Regions from separate parts of the Homo sapiens genome. Here region 2 is linked to region 1. The links come from fine-mapping of genetic effects on gene expression. Tissue or cell type: spinal cord. Region 1 holds a variant in brackets; the other region holds the start of a gene. All regions are shown on one strand. Distances are between the middles of the regions.

What was found. PIP is the estimated chance that this variant, and not a neighbour inherited with it, causes the effect.
Region 2: SPAG9 starts here. The variant in region 1 is fine-mapped to the expression of SPAG9 in spinal cord (GTEx, PIP above 0.99).

Annotation. Positions count from the first base shown.
Region 1 is chr17:50,962,065-50,970,324 of GRCh38, reverse strand. SPAG9 (sperm associated antigen 9) reads left to right here. Exons shown (of 30, transcript NM_001130528.3): 30 at 3,938-8,151. The coding sequence ends at 4,053. Among named protein-coding and RNA genes, the nearest start is that of TOB1-AS1, 100 kb to the right of the region's middle. The variant G/A (reference allele first, on the strand shown) is at 4,338.
Region 2 is chr17:51,116,083-51,124,082 of GRCh38, reverse strand. SPAG9 (sperm associated antigen 9) reads left to right here and starts at 3,215. Exons shown (of 30, transcript NM_001130528.3): 1 at 3,215-3,729. The coding sequence starts at 3,427. RefSeq lists enhancers at 1,864-2,123, 2,733-2,962, 2,479-3,293, 3,583-3,702, 7,081-7,180 and 2 more and silencers at 3,103-3,482, 3,733-3,812, 3,833-3,962.

The DNA.
Region 1 (8,260 bases):
CCAGGCTATTCTCAAACTCCTGACCTCAAGTGATCCGCCTGCCTCGGCCTTCCAGCTGGGATTACAAGCCCGAGCCACCGCACCCGGCCCTTGGTATTTCTTTTCATACCAAAATGTATTTGTTTGAAAGGAGCATTAGAAATAGCAGGATGTGGTCAATGTGAAGTTTTATGTGAAAAGCATAGGATTTAGGGTCAGAAGGCCTTGGACAAGTCATTCAACCTCTTAGAGCCTCGGTTTTCTGTCAAAATGGAGAAATAAAAATATTTCTTAAACAACTTCATTTGTTCATTTTCTCACCTAACAAACATTAATTGAGCACCTACTGTGTACCTGTCATTCTTAAACTGGAGATACAGAAACAAATCAGACAAAGCCTTCGTCTAATAGATTATAGAACAGTGCAGAGATAGAGACATGTTAATAAATTAAAATGTTACTGATGCTCTGGTAGTGAGTAGTCAGTTCTTTCCAAGGGTAGGGAGAGAAGGAAGTCAAGAAATGATGCTTGAGGTGACTCAGCACTGCATAGTCTTAGCACAAAGGGTCAGGTTGGGGAATGGGGTGGGGAGGACCAGGGGTTGGCACTCCGAGGTAAGAGAATAGCTTGGCCAAAGGTTTAGAGATATGAAACCATTTTAATGGAAGAAAAACTATTTTAAAATGACAAGAGTGTGGAGTAGAAGAAAGTATGAATTTGTTGTCAAAAGGGAGGGAGGGACTGGAGTATGGGAGGCCTTTACATACCAGATTAAGAAGATTGTACTTTATCTTTCAAGCAAAAGAGAACTATAGGAGCAATGTGATTAGAGTTGTGTGAAGGATGGACTGGAGGTTCAAGACTAGACCTAGGGAAATGAGTTGGGAACAAGTGAATGCCCAAGAAAGGTAGTAACAGTGTGAACAGATAAGAAGCATGATGAGAATGTGGGGAAGGAGAGAATGGGCCATAGAGCTCAGGACTGTCAACAGGAGAAGCAGGTCTGGAGGGACGGAAAGAGGAGTCCAGTGCTGATCATGTTGATCTTGAAGAGCATAGTGGTGATTTAGGTGGGAAATTTCCACTGGGCTTCTGAATATACAGGTCCTCTATCTTAGGAGGGAGGGATTTGGGGGCTGTCAGCATGGAGTGGTACTAAAAGCCATGAGGGTTGGTGAGTTCGCCCAAGGAGCTAAAAGAAAAGGTTCCAGTGGCTAAACCCAGTCTCTAATAAAAATACAAAAATTAGCTGAGCGTGATGCCGTGTACCTGTAATCCCAGCTATTCAGGAGGCTGAGGCAGGAGAATCACTTGAACCCGGGAGGTGGAGGTTGCAGTGAGCCGAGATCACACCACTGCACTCCAGCCTGGGTGACAGAGTGAGACTCCATCTCAAAAAAAGAAAAGAAAGAAAAAGGAAAGGTTCCAGGATAGAACCCTGAATTCATACTCCATTTAAAGATCATTAGAGCTTATGGAGGGATCTGAGAAGGAATGGCCAGAGAGGTACAAAGAAAACATGGAGAACTGATGCTCGTGAAAGAGTAGTGCTTTGTAAATTGTAAGACACTGTACAAATATGTTTATTTATTTGCTATAATTTTTCTTTTTTGAGACAGAGTCTCACACTCTGTCACCCAGGCTGGAGTGCAGTGGCACAATCTTGGCTCACTGCAACCTCCACCTCCCGGTTTCAAGCAATTCTCATGCCTCAGCCTCCCGAGTAGCTGGGATTTCAGGCATGTGCCACCACGCCTGGTTAATTTTTGTATTTTTAGTAGAGACGGGGTTTCACCATGTTGGCCAGGCTGGTCTCGAACTCCTGGCCTCAAACAGTCCACCTGCCTCAGCCTCCCAAAGTGCTGGGATTACAGGCATGAGGCACCGCACCCAGCTTATTTGCTATAAATAAACTGATCCCTTGGACTCGCTTAAAATCTCAGTGCTTCAAAAAGTTCCCAGACATAAGGCAGTAGGCAGTTTGAGAGAATATAATAGTGTTGTAGATCAGTAACAAATACTTTAGATATGAATTCTGTAAAGGAATAAAAAAAAATTAGGGTCATTTAAATGACAATGTGACAAATGTGATTAGTGTCACCAATATCTGATGCAAAAAGTTTGTTGACACTTTTAAGAGGGGAAGGCTGTTAGTGTGAACTTTAGAAATTGATTCCAGGGATGTCAGCAGGAATGGAGTCATTTCAAAGTGTTTTGAATAATTGACTATTGTTGAATTCCCTTTTATGAGAGGAGTTGTTAGGGACTCCACTTGGCTGGGGTGATTTTTGTAACTTTGTGTTGGAGTGCAGTATGTCAGTTGGAACCGTACTGAGGAGTTTGTTAATAAAATCTCTATGTGGTTTTTCCATTTCCACTAAAAATTCCTTCCATTGTGGATCCTGAAAATAGAACAAAAATTGCTTAACCAGGTTTGGCAGTATCTCTAGTTATTTCCAGCCTGAAAAACAGACTTGTCTTTAGCATAGGCTAATTTTAATAGTGAATATACTGTTGTAAAAAATCAAATTTGATCTTTTTTGGGGGTCCATTTCCTTTTTCATTTCCTGTAATATTTTAACAGTGAGAAATTGATTCTAAAGTCCCATATTTTTAATGATTTAAACTTAAAACTTAGGCTGTAGAGACCCTAGCAGACAGGATAATTTTCTTACAAGTAAAATCTTCAGAACAACTCAGAAGAGAAATGGCGACAGCCTTTTGTCTCAGCCAGTTAATTTTTTTCATTGAAATTTTTTAAAATTTAAGAGCCAAACTTAATTTTTTTACCTTCTAACCACCTGGGTATGTTTCAGTTCAGAGATGGGAGTTTGAACTGAGTGTTCTCCTCTCTCTAGTTTGATATTGCTGTGAAAAGGCCATTACAGGGCTGGGTAAGGGAAAGTTTGGCCTGCAGAGAAAAATGCAGATATTTAGGGTTTTTTCTCTTCTGTTGTTTCTAGTCAACAGTATCAATATTTTCTTTTGTCCAGCTGAAATTCACATGGGGCACATTACAAAATTCTGTTAGATCAGTGGAATATATCTTTAGGTCCTGTGGTGTGTATGTTTTTAGGATTCTGCTGAAGAATCCATCCCACTAGACAACTTTTCACTGGGTTGTGCCAAAATAACCCTGCTCTGTGACAACAGATACAATTGATGCAAGCTTGTATCGAGAATTATGGTATGCCCTGCACTGGGTCTTATGGAGAGGAGTGTGGTGTACCCCAGACTGGGCCTTGGAAGCCAGTGTCTGATCAGGACACCATGGATCACATTCACTTAGCCGTGATGCAGAAGAACCTGTATCTTGGCTGCTACCCCAACCTCTTTGTTTCTCCTTTTCCATTATACACTGTTAATTTGTAACCTATCCTAAACTTGAAAATCATTGGAAGAAAAACCCAGTAGCTGGTGAATCTGCCATCTGCAGTGCTGCAGGCTAATTATTTTAATTTCCATATGCTTGTGTCAATTATCTTCAATTGGAGAACATTACACCTGTCATTGATAATTGTGAGTTATTTGGGTTTAGTTAGTTTGCTCTGTACCTGTGCTCACGCATTTTATAACACTATTCTCAGTTCTTAGTTTAAAATAAGTGACAGTAGACTCTTCATTTTGGATGAACACAGAATTGCCTTCTTAGCTTCCCATGTCTGGACCATCGGTATGCAGACATGTTGGGGTGGCTTTTTAACGTAGTATAGTGAACTGGATTTTATAAATACAGTCTGAAAAATGAATTAACCTTTTCTGAAGTCAAGCAGTGGCTTGGGTGAATATGGGTGAGGATTCTGACTCTTAGTATTTCTTCTACTATTTACTCTCCAGTGAAAGTCAGACAAGTTTTGGGCATCTTGTTCATGGACTAACCACGAGCATTACATCTGACTCACATCATTCTATATTTTATGTGTTCAGCCTAACTTGAGTCTTCTTATCATTCACTAGGTGATGAAGGTGGAGAATCAGAACTTCTTGGAGAGGATCTTCCACTTGAACCTTCTGTCACCAAAGCAGAAAGGAGTCACTTGATAGTGTGGCAAGTGATGTATGGCAATGAGTGAGCCCATGGGAAACAGGTGGAGATGGGGAAGCCGTCTCTTCTGCATGGTTTATTTTCCCTCTATCCTTTTATTTAATGCTCTTTTGTGAGATAAGTTTCACCACATAATGTGTGAGCATTTTTTCCTGTTAACTTTATATTACAAAATCCGTTCTACCATAACAATACAGAGGAACTAGCTGTGTTACTGCACCAGTGTTATAGGTAACTTCAGTATATTATGAACAAATCAAAGAATGTTTACTTCCTGCAAACTGGTGAATTATAGAAAGCAATCCAGATGTG[G/A]TTTACTCTGCCACAGTCTAATGTCATTCACTTCATTTGATGGGGTCACTTGTTAGCTGTCACTAATAATGGAATTAATGGGAAACACTTGATAAATGAAACTGTACCGTTAAATACAATAGCTGAGTTTTCCCCAGTGTATTGTAAAATTGACACACACTAATACAAGATGGATTATCAGGATGTATCTAAATGTCCCGAGAGGGTTAAAAGCTAACTGTAAATTACTTTAACTTTCACTTTCAAATCTGACAAATCTTGTTTATATGGTATATAAAACTTTGTTTTCATCAGATTTGGGGGGGTTTTATATTAAAGAAATTAAGACTACACTATTTAAATAAACGTTTCCTGTTTCTGACTTATTAGAGCTCTAAAGTTTATGAGGCCTACTTCTCTGAATATTCTGATGGGTTTTTTTTGAGACCAGTCTCATTTTCATACTGACATGTCTGAAAGATTTATTATTTATAAAGCTTAGGACATACTCTGGGAAGCTTAGAAGATACTTCAGCACTGGGAGGATTTTTTAAAGGAAATGTGTTTTGTATTTCTTGTACCAGAGAATGGTGATGTTGATTGAGTTTTTTCCATGTAAAAAATGTACTTGTTTGCCAAATGTTCCTAGATTGCTCTTAACCTGTTAATACAAGTAAAACTGTAGTGGGGATGGAGTCTGGCCTAAGTACAGAATGAGGGATTTAATTAGAAAAGTTATTTTCTTTTGTTCTGTATCAAACTGCAGAACAGCTATATACTTGGTATTTTGTACGTGAATAACGTTTTAGCTTTTGTGCCCTTTTGAGCTTGAAGGGTTATCCTCAAAGGGGAAAACTATGAAGGGGAAGAAGACAAACCTAAGATACCATAAAGTAAAGGTTGACATTACATATTTTCATTCACAATGCCCATTAAAAAAAAAAAATAGGTTGGGCATGGTGGCTCACGCCTGTAATCCCAACACTTTAGGAGGCTGAGGCAGATGGATTGCTTGAGCCCAGGAGTTCAAGACCAGCCTGGGCAACATGGCGAAACCCTGTCTCTACCAAAAAAAAAAAACAAAATAAATTAACCGGGTGTGGTGGCACATGCCTGTAGTCCCAGCTACTTGGGAGGCTGAGGTGGGAGGATGACCTGGGCCCAGGAGGTGGAGGTTGCAGTGAGCCTTGATAGCACCACTGCACTCCAGCCTGGGTGACGGAGCAAGACCCTGTCTCAAAACAGACAAACAAGCAAAAAATAGATTAAAGTCTGGATTTCACTGATTTTCTTGCTTAATAAGTTTTTTAAAACCACGATGCTGCAATTTTTTCCCTCTCAAGCTTCTTGAAAATGTGTGATTTACCCTTTTTTATCTATTACTCTAGGCAAAGCTAAATATGATTTTTTTTTTTTTTTTTGAGACGGAGTCTGGCTCTGTTGCCCAGGCTGGAATGCAGTGGTGCGATCTCAGCTCACTGCAACCTCCACCTCTCAGGTTCAAGTAGTTCTCCTGCCTCAGCCTCCCAAGTAGCTGGGATTACAGGTGTGTGCCACCCTGCCCAGCTAATTTTTGTATTTTTAGTAGAGACAGGGTTTCACCACATTGGCCAGGCTGGTCTCAAACTCCTGACCTCAGATGATCTACCCGCCTTGGCCTCCCGAAGTGCTTGAATTACAGGCGTGAGCCCCCGCGCCGGTCCGAAGCAAAGCTAAATGTAATTTTATGTACTGTTTTAACAGTATAAACCTATGGGATAAAGGCCCCCAATCATCAGAAGGACTACTGAAAAGAAAAGAAAGCAAACGTAGATGTCAAATTGTCTAAACATTCTTAAGTACCACTGATTTTTTTTTTCTGGACTATTATACAAAGATGTCTGTAAAAAGTATACCAGTGGCTTTTATGCATATACACGATTAGGCTAGATTGTGAAGTACATGGGATTTCATGAGCCAGAGGAGGCATTTGGATCCATTGGGCCACATGTGACTATAAGCACATTGTGTACACAATAAAATTGTAGCCACTCATGTATTAAAACTGTTTTGGTAAAAGCTGTATTAAAAGAATAATTTTTTGCTTGAGCTACTTAGTCACTTTTTTGCAGGGCACCAAAATGTAGGCTACTTTTCCATAGCTTGTTTGCTATGTTTTTATTTCATCTTAAATCTGAGCCATTTTTGGCAATATCTTTTAAAAAATCATTATTAAACATTTATTGGAAATGTTGTATAGATTCACAAGAAAGAGACACCAAAGTGTTTGGGAATTTTAATCCCAAGAAGTAAACATCCCAGAGTCAGATCCCATTTGCTGTTGTTCAGCCATGTTTGTATGACTGAATGTAATTTAGGAAATCAGGAGTTAGAGATGAAAAATACAAACATGTCAAATGGTTGTAATTGCTTTTTTTGAACTTACTGGCTTTAACTTAAGTAATATAGGTGTGTAGTTGTTTTATCTAAAGATGTCAGATTATCTGTGGCCCTGTTAATTAACTGCAGGGACCAGAGAGAGGACAAAAATGCCTGTATAATTTGCTTTAAAGGCTTGTCCTTATGTTTGTAATTTCAGTTAAATATTTTCTACAGATTGCTTCACTTCCCCTTTCCCCCAATAACAAGTTCATATTCTTGTAATGTTTACTTTGGTCAACGTGGTAATTTTTGGAAGAAAATGCCAAAATGTAAGCTTCTCACAAGCAGCAAAGGAATGTAACTGCCTGTAGCTACCACATCAAGGGAGAGAAGAGGCTTGCGTACTTTGGGTTGATCTCACTGTACAAAAAAAGTGTACCCCTATTGGAAGAAATAAGGAATACTTGAAGGTTTCTCCTTTTTTTACACTTGAGTCATGTGCAAGGTTGAACCATATGAAATTGCCAGTGTTCAACCATTGCTGATCTGCAAAAGCGACAATATCATATGCCTCAACCTAACACTTACTCTTAAATGCAGGTTAAAATCTCTGTGAGGCAAAGGGATAATATTCTCTAGGAACTCACTTTTGAGAGTATTTTTCTCTAACCCATGTGGATCTAAATTTTAAAAATAGGAATGAATCTCTTAATTGCAGCTTGTGGAGAGTATAAAACATTTTGAGCACAATATGCAGCACATAACTTTTCAGATTGTGTTTGCATAGAAAAGGTTAAAATCAATTCTTTCAGTTACTGTATTGTTCATTTCTTGTAAAGGTCTTCCTACATTTGAGACGAGACCCTTTAACATAGGCTGCCTTAGTAACAAAATAAAACAGATGTGTCATAATATTAACTGTCCTAAAGAACATGTGTCTTGCAAATGCCATGGAACTGAATATTTATTTCCTTGTGAGTATTATGACCGTTACCAAAGGACTCAACCAGATTTAGGGCTCTTCTTAATTGATCATGTTCAGAAAGGGACTCATTTGGTCCCACTTTGTAACATGGGAAGAGTAGAAGAGAAAATTAAATGTGGAAATCATAAATGCTTTTCTAACAGGGTTATGCTATTCTGTAACACTAAATGTCTGTCTTTTCTCTTAAAAGATTAAGTTTTATTAATTTTGTCATACATTTCTCTATTTGAATATATCTTAACCATTTTATGTTCCAAATTCGTTTTTTGTCCAAGACATTCTATCAGAATTTTACTTGCCTCTATAATCTGAAAAATGGGTTCTAGAATGTCCCACTTGCTGTCTCTTAGAGGCTGAGCTTCATTTCTATGAGCAAAGAGCTCATTTAGCAATGTAGTTATTTCAGTATTTATTTCTATTATGGAATCCCTGGGGTTCAGAATGTAACTTTGTACATGAGATATATATAAATATGTATATGAACATGTATGAGGTCTAGTGTGTTTTGTTTTGTTTTTACCGTTCCTGGGGATCTGAACTTGGTTTTTATTTGCAAGTCCAATAATCTTCCCCATCACACATGTCATTCCTGAGGGTC
Region 2 (8,000 bases), 150 kb before region 1:
GTGGTCCTTTGTGACTGACTTCTTTCACTTAGCTTTTTCAAGATTCAGCTGTATCTCTGGGCATGGTGGCTCACGCCTGTAATCCCAGCACTTTGGGAGGCCAAGGTGGGTGGATCACCTGAGGTCAGGAGTTTGAGATCAGCCTGGCTAACGTAGTGAAACCCTGTTTCTACTAAAAATACAAAAAATTAGCCGGGTGTGGTGGCGCACACCTGTAATCCCAGCTACTCGGGAGGCTGAGGCAGGAGAATCGCTTGAACTTGGGAGGCGGAGGTTTCGGTGAGCTGAGGTTGCACCATTGCACTCCAGCTTAGGCAACAAGAGCGAAATTCCATCTCAAAAAAAAAAAAAAGATTCAGCTATGTCATGGCATGTACTTAAAATTTTTGTTTTCTTTTCTATTCTTTTTTTTTTTTTTTGGAGACGGAGTTTTGCTCTTGTTGCCCAGGCTGGAGTGCAATGGCTCGATCTTGGCTCACCACAACCTCCGCCTCCCAGGTTCAAGCGATTCTCCTGCCTCAGCCTCCTGAGTAGCTAAGAATACAGGTGCGGGCCACCACGCCCGGCTAATTTTGTATTTTTAGTAGATACAGGGTTTCTCCATATTGGTCAGGCTGATCTTGAACATCTGACCTCTGACCTCAGGTGATCCGCCCGCCTCGACCTCCCAAAGTGCTGGGAGTACAGGTGTAAGCCACCGTGCCTGGCCAAAAAAAATTTTTTTTTTTTTTTTTGTCAGGGATGAAGGTCTCACTATGTTGCCCAGGCTGGTCTCCAACTCATGGCACAAGCCATCCTCTTGCAAGTGCTGAGATTACAGGCGCGAGCCACCACGCCTACTCCCCTCCCCTCCAACGACTTTCTTTTTATTGCCAAATAATAGTCCATTGTATACCTATGTCACATTTTATCCATTCATCAGCTGATGGTTATTTAGCTGAATTTTATTTTAACTAAATGTTATCTCTGATAACTGGCAGAAGCTTAAAATCAAGACATAAGTGTGTATCTTTCTATGTTGAACGTATACCTAAAGAAGTATACTTATTAGGAATGACAATTAAAATCTCGTACTTGAAAAATCGATACTTTTTTCTTTTTTCTTTTTTTTTTTGAGATGGAGTCTCACTCTGTCGCCCAGGCTGGAGTGCAATGGTGTGATCTCTGCTCACTGCAACCTCCGCCTCCCAGGTTCAAGCTATTCTCCTGCCTCAGCCTCTTGAGTAGCTGGGATTATAGGTGTGCACCACCATGCCCGACTAATTTTTGTACTTTTTAGTAGAAATGGGGTTTCACCATATTGTTCAGGCTGGTCTTGAACTCCTGACCTTGTGATCCACCCGCCTCGGCCTCCCAAAGTGCTGGGTTACAGGCATGAGTCACCACGCCCGGCTGATACTTTTTTCTTTAAATTTTTTGATGTGTATGATAATATTGTGGAAAGAAAAAGTAAAGCCTTGCCCTATGTTTTTTGGCTCTTCTGATCCCCCAGGAAAAGAGAGGCATGCATATAGGTAGACCAGGTGAGTGACAGCCCTCAGGAAGAGAAAATAAAAGAGGAGAGATTCAGATCAAGACTTTTTCTAGTTTTCAAATATGAAAGGTTAAGAAGAGAAAGGGCATTTGCGGCTCACAGCCAACCAGCTGGTCGGCATTCCTACTACCCAAATATCTAAATGACATAAGGGTGAATGTGGGGTGAGGGTGAGAACGGGAAAAAACACAGGCCGCAAATTCAGTCCCATCTGGCACTTCATAAGACTTAGTATTTTCATCTTTGTCCTTCCAAATTTATAGGTTTACTCTTGCCCAACCTTCATATTGTTTTTATGGGTCTCCAGGTGGGTCATGCGTAGGAAACTTTAGGGGACTACTTCATACTTGGTGGGAAGTACTTAAACTTGTAAACCCCAAGCTAAGGGTAGTTATGATCCCGGTGGGTGGCCAATTCTCCCCTTAAACCTATGTTTATCCTGCCTTTCCTCCCCCTTTTCTTAAACGAGTCGGGACGGAGAGCTGAGTCACCTGAGACACAGAGAAGGGACTTTTGAGAGTGTCTTCCGTCCCATTTGCGGACGTTAGATGAGCACACCGGGATCCTTGACTCAGCCCGCTCTAGGCGTGGGCGTTGTGTCATTCCCCACACGTGACACTCTCCCAGGCGGCAGAAACCTCACTTGTCATGGGACTTATTCACTCCAGTGACTCCACCCCTTACCTCCTCTGTTCCCCAACCTCCCACTTACCCTTTCCGCCCCACTTCAAGACTTGAGGAGAGGAGGGTGGCTGGAGCCTGGAAATGTCCCCGTCCCAAGTTGGCCAGAAGTAGCAGACACACTATGTGGGAAAGTGCCACATGTAACGTTCCAGTTTCACCCTTCTCCAGAATGCTATCACCCTTCCTGTTTATTTTTTAATAACTTGAGATATAATTCACACGCCATATGATTCACTCACTTAACGTGTAAAGTTGAATGTCTTTTAGCATATTTAGAGTTGTGTATTCATCACTATAATACATTTTTTAGAACATTTTTATTATCCCAAAACGAAATCCCATACCTATTAGCAGTCACTCCCATTTCCCCTCATCTCACCCTTGCTCTTCCATAGCACAAAACAGTTCTATTCTATTCGAGACCACCTTTCCACTTGGGCAGACCCTGGTTATGGTTTTTTTTCCCTCCCTTTCTGTTTCCAGTTTTTTTCGGAGCCCGGAATTCTCAATCTGGGTAATTGGTTTGAGTCCCGGCTCAGCCCGTTTCCCGTTGTAGCTGCGTGACCTTGAGAGCAACGCCACTTTCCTGGGCCTAGTTTCTTTGTCTGTGAAACGAGGTCCAAATATCTACCTCTTTACGCCTGTTGTGGGGATGAAGTGAGTAGGTGCTTTGTGAGCTTTAAAAAGCCATAGAAATGCCAGCTAAGTTAACTCGTCACTCTTCCCGAACCCCTCCCTTTCCCCTGGGACCCGCCCCGCGAATCCCGCTGTGGATGGATACTTCTCCCCACCCGCCGACCGCAGTCTTTCCCATTGGCGCCCGCACCGTCTTCGCGGCGCCGGGTGTTGACGCCATGGCTTCCTCCGCCAGCGCCCGAAGACGCTTGGCCCCGCCCCCGGCCGCGCCTGGCCTCCCGCGGCGCCCCGCCCATCGGGCCGACGCGGCGCCGGCCCCGCCCCGCGGATGACGTGTGGCGCGCGCGGCCGGGCCGCCCCGGCAGTTGGTGCAGCGGCGGTTGGGGTGAGAGCGCCTACGCCACCCCTCCCCTCCTCCGGCCCCGGCCCCCACCCCGCCGGGCCCAGCCCCAGCCCCGGCCCGGGCTCCAGCCCTAGTACCCGTCCCAGCCCGAGTCGGGTCCGTCCCGTGCGGGCAGGTGCCGCCCCTCTGCCGGCGACGCCCCGGGCCGCCCGCCCGTCCGCTTGCCACCATGGAGCTGGAGGACGGTGTGGTGTATCAGGAGGAGCCCGGCGGCTCCGGGGCCGTGATGTCGGAGCGGGTGTCCGGCCTGGCCGGCTCCATCTACCGCGAGTTCGAGCGGCTTATCGGGCGCTATGACGAGGAGGTGGTCAAAGAGCTGATGCCGCTGGTGGTGGCTGTGCTGGAGAACCTGGACTCGGTGTTCGCGCAGGACCAGGAGCACCAGGTGGAGCTGGAGCTGCTGCGGGACGACAACGAGCAGCTCATCACCCAGTACGAGCGGGAGAAGGCGCTGCGCAAGCACGCTGAGGAGGTGAGGCCGGCGGCAGGGCGGGGGCCGCGGGATCCGTCTCCGGGGGCGGCCGGGGCGGGGTCGCGGCCCGGTCGGGGACTAGAGGCGCGACGGGCCTCCTGGAGGGCGGGCCTGAGGCCGATGCCCCCTGGGACCGATCCCGGCGGCCTCCAGGTACCCCGGGAGCCAGGCCGGCGTTGGAAGCCGAGGCCGGCTACTGAGTGTCCTGGGAAGGGAGCGAGATGGAGGAGGCAGGGCCCGGGGAGGAAGCGGCAGCCTGGCCTGAGGACACCTGGGGTTGGCCAAGGGCGGAGATTGTTGGGTGTCTGGTTGCTTCTTGTTGAGGGAAGTTTCCGACCACCGTGGGATAGTCAGATGGCGGTTCAAAGTTTTACCCTTGGGGAGGGGGACACTTCTGCCCTGGATATGTAACTTCCGCTAGTTCCAGTACCTTTCCAGGGGGTTGCCTTGCTTTGGGAAGTTAGAGATCTCCCTCTTTCGGTCAGTTTCTTCTTGACGTTTTAATCTTGTTGAGAAAGACGTCTTATTTTATGTTCTATGTGCCTTGGTTGACACTTTGTCAACTTTTAGATGTTGTGTGGCAGTACTCAATAAATATATAAACAATTTCGTTGGTATCCCAAACCAAAGCATTCCTCCGTATCAGGTTGTAACCTTGGACAGTTCCCTTCAAAAACCCTCCGTTTATTTATAAAAAGGATTGGGGGGCGGGGTTGGGAAGATGTAGGTGACAGTTGGCAACACTTTTTCCGTCTGAGTTTCCTTCTTAGACTGCTGTTTATACGTGCATTTGGCCACCTGTTAACTCTAGCACCCGAGCAGTGACCTGGGCGCCCTCACCTCGACTCTGTGAACCTTTTGGAGTTCTAGGGTGCAAGTGATAGGTCCTTGGCTTCTTGAGACTGACAAGGAGTTTAGCTTTCAGCCTGCGTTGGCGTTATTTCTGTGGACCTTATCAAAGGCAGGTGATGTGTCCTATTTTTGTTTCTCAAGCACCTAGCACACCTGCTTAAATACATGGTGATCAAAGGAGGCGAAATAACTAATTATTGAAGGAATGACATAGTATTTTTCAAAAAGACTTGAAGAGTTTTTAGGATGTGAGGTTTGTAGCTCATTTCCTGACACTGAATAGTAACACCATTAAATTTTTGTTTTATTTTGTCACGTATACCTTTGCATCTGGTTAAATAGTTCTTTTTCCTTTTTTAAAAGCTTGACTGTAGTGATGATTTTTAGTTCTGATTGTGGGATCCAATTTTCTCAAAGGAATGCTATTGAATTTGCCAAACAAAATTGCCTTTTTTTTTTTTTTTTTTTGAGACGTAGTCTCACTCTGTCGCCCAGGGTGAAGTGCAGTGGAGTGATCTTGGCTCACTGCAACCTCTGCCTGCCGGGTTCAAGCGATTCTTGTGCCTCAGCTTCCTAAGGAGCTAGGACAACACTCCCCGCTCATTTTTGTTTTTTGTAGAGACAGGATTTCTCCATGGTGCCTAGGATGGTCTTGAACTCCTGGCCTCAAGTGATCTGCCCACTTTGGCCTCGGGCTGACCATCCCAGTGCTGGGATTACAGGCATGAGCCACCGCACCCCGCCAGAATGGACTATTTCAAGAGCTTTTCCTTTCATATAGGGAAGGAAGGGATGAAAAACCAAATAATGATAGGATCACAATTTCCGCTTGTTTGTTAGCACTCTTTATAGAACAGAGGTCAAGTGCTACTTGCTGCTTCATGCTCATATAGCCCCTTGCCAGTGTGTGGATATACATGGAAGTGACTGGGAATTAACCACATGTACACACAGGTGACAAGCAAGCCTGACATGACCTTTTACCTCACGTAAAATAAATGCTCCCTCCAGCCTTAAACTCCTGTCAGTCCGTGTAAATATGGGCAAAATGCCAGGGTCACACGTGCCAAGAAAACCATCTGCCACAGGTTGCAGAATCAGAAAACAAAATTGCCCGACTGCTAGACTCTGGGTTCCCTATTAATTTCTTGAGTAAATGACTCTAAAAAAAATAGGTTATCCAATGAATTTATTTGTAGTTTATATTTTTTCAGTTACATCTGTAAATTCTCCATAGTGAAACCATTGGGCAAAGGGTCATGACCTGAGAACAGAGAACATTTATGAAATGCTAAATGAGCCCACTCCCAGGCCACAAACATAAACACACCTTGTTATCAGTTTTCTTTTCTCTTTTTTTTTTTTTTTGAGACAGAGTCTCTCTCTGTCGCCAGGCTGGAGTGCAGTGGCACGATCTCGGCTCACTGCCTCCCGGGTTCAAGCAATTCTTCTGCCTCAGCCGCCCGAGTAGCTGGGACTATAGGCACGTGCCACCCCGCCCAGCTAATATGTATATATATTTTGTATTTTAGTAGAGACGGGGTTTCACCTTGTTGCCCAGGCTGGTCTTGAACTCCTGAGCTCAGGCAATCCACTCGCCTCAGCCTCCCAAAGTACTGGGATTACAGATGTGAGCCACCACACCCGGCCATCAGTTTTCACATAAGATCATAAATTGTGTGTTGCTCAGTATCCAGAAATTGTCTCCCTTTGGCCAATATGTAGAGTGAATTCTGTGTTTAGTTTTCTGTGAGTGCTTTGTTTGCGCCTTTTTTTTTTTTTTTTTTTTTTTTGAGACGGAGTCTTGCTCTGTCACCCAGGCTGGAGTGCAGTGGCACAATCTTGACTCACTGCAGCCTCCGCCTCCCGGGTTCAAGCGATTCTGCCTCAGCCTCTTGAGTAGCTGGGATTACAAGCACGTGCCACCACGCCTGGCTAATTTTTTTGTATTTTTGGTAGAGACGGGGTTTCACCATTTTAGCCAGGATAGTCTCAATCTCCTGACCTCGTGATCTGCCCGCCTCAGCCTCCCAAAGTGCTGGGATTACAGGCATGAGCCACCGTGCCGGCCTGTTTGTGTCTTTAATGCGGAGACCAAGAGTCTTTTATACCAAAGTAAGTGCCTCAGGGTATTTACAGCAAAAGTGATTTGAAAGCATGGAAATTATCCATCACCAGAGAGAGTAAAGTAAATTCTGAGCACCTCTGTGGAAACTTAGGTGGGTATGTAGATAGAATGTTTTAGGAATGTGTGAGGTGCTATGATCTCTTGCTTGCAGGAATTCTCAGCAAGGCATCAAAAATTTAATCTTTATATTGATAGGACATATTTTGAATACCTTCTGACTTTTTCCTTTGCTTTTATTTGAATTTCTAGTGTGGAGCTAGTCTGCTGTTTTAGGGATTCTTTAAAAACAACCTAAAGAAGGGCTAATTTTAGATAGATTTGGACCGGTTTCAGATGCTAATCAAGAAATCTGTCATCTTATCGCCCATCACTCTCTCCTTTGGGCTGCCTGTGACACACCTCTCCATTCTTTAACCAAGACCCGTCTGATGCCTTTGCCCATGCTCTAGAATGCTCTCCTTAGAATTTTACATAGCTAGCTCCTCACTTTCTACTCTGTTTCAATTTCACTTTTTCAGCCAGAACATCCTGTTGACTCTATCCAGAATAAGCCCTGTGAACCTATTGAATAATTTATTTTAAAATCAGTGACTTTTAAATTTAAATTCTTTTTGGAGACAGAGTCTCAATCGCCTAGGCTGGGGTGTAGTGGCACAGTCACAGTTCACTGCAGCCTCAATCTCTTGGGCTCAAGTGATCCTCTTGCCTCAGCCTCCTGAGTAGCTAGGACCACAGACATGCGTTACCACACTGGGCTAATTAAATTTTTTACAGAGACAAGGTCTCACTGTGTTGCCCAGTCTGGTCTGGAACTCCTGGGCTCAAGTGATCCTCCTGCCTTGTGGATCCTGCCAAAGTGTTGGGACTTACAGGGGTGAGCCACTGTGCCCCAGCCCAGTGATTTTTTAAAATAAAAATCTGGATACAAAATGATCTGGAGAGAGAGGTTATAACTGGGTATGTTAGGGTTTTTCTGCAACTTCTGATTCTTTTAAAACAGGCATGATTTGCTGTAACTTTTAAAAAAGGGCCAGGTGTGGTGGCTCACATCTATAGTCCCAGCACTTTGGGAGGCCGAGGCAGATGGATCACTTGAGGTCAGGAGTGTGGGACCAGCCTCGCCAACATGATGAAACCCTGTCTGTACTAAAAATACAAAAATTATCTGGGTGTGGTGGTGGGTGCCTGTAATCCCAGCTACTGGGGAGGCTGATGCAGAAGAATTGCTTGAACCCGGGAGATGGAGGTTGCAGTGAGCTGGGATCGTGCCTCTGTACTCCAGCCTGGGCAG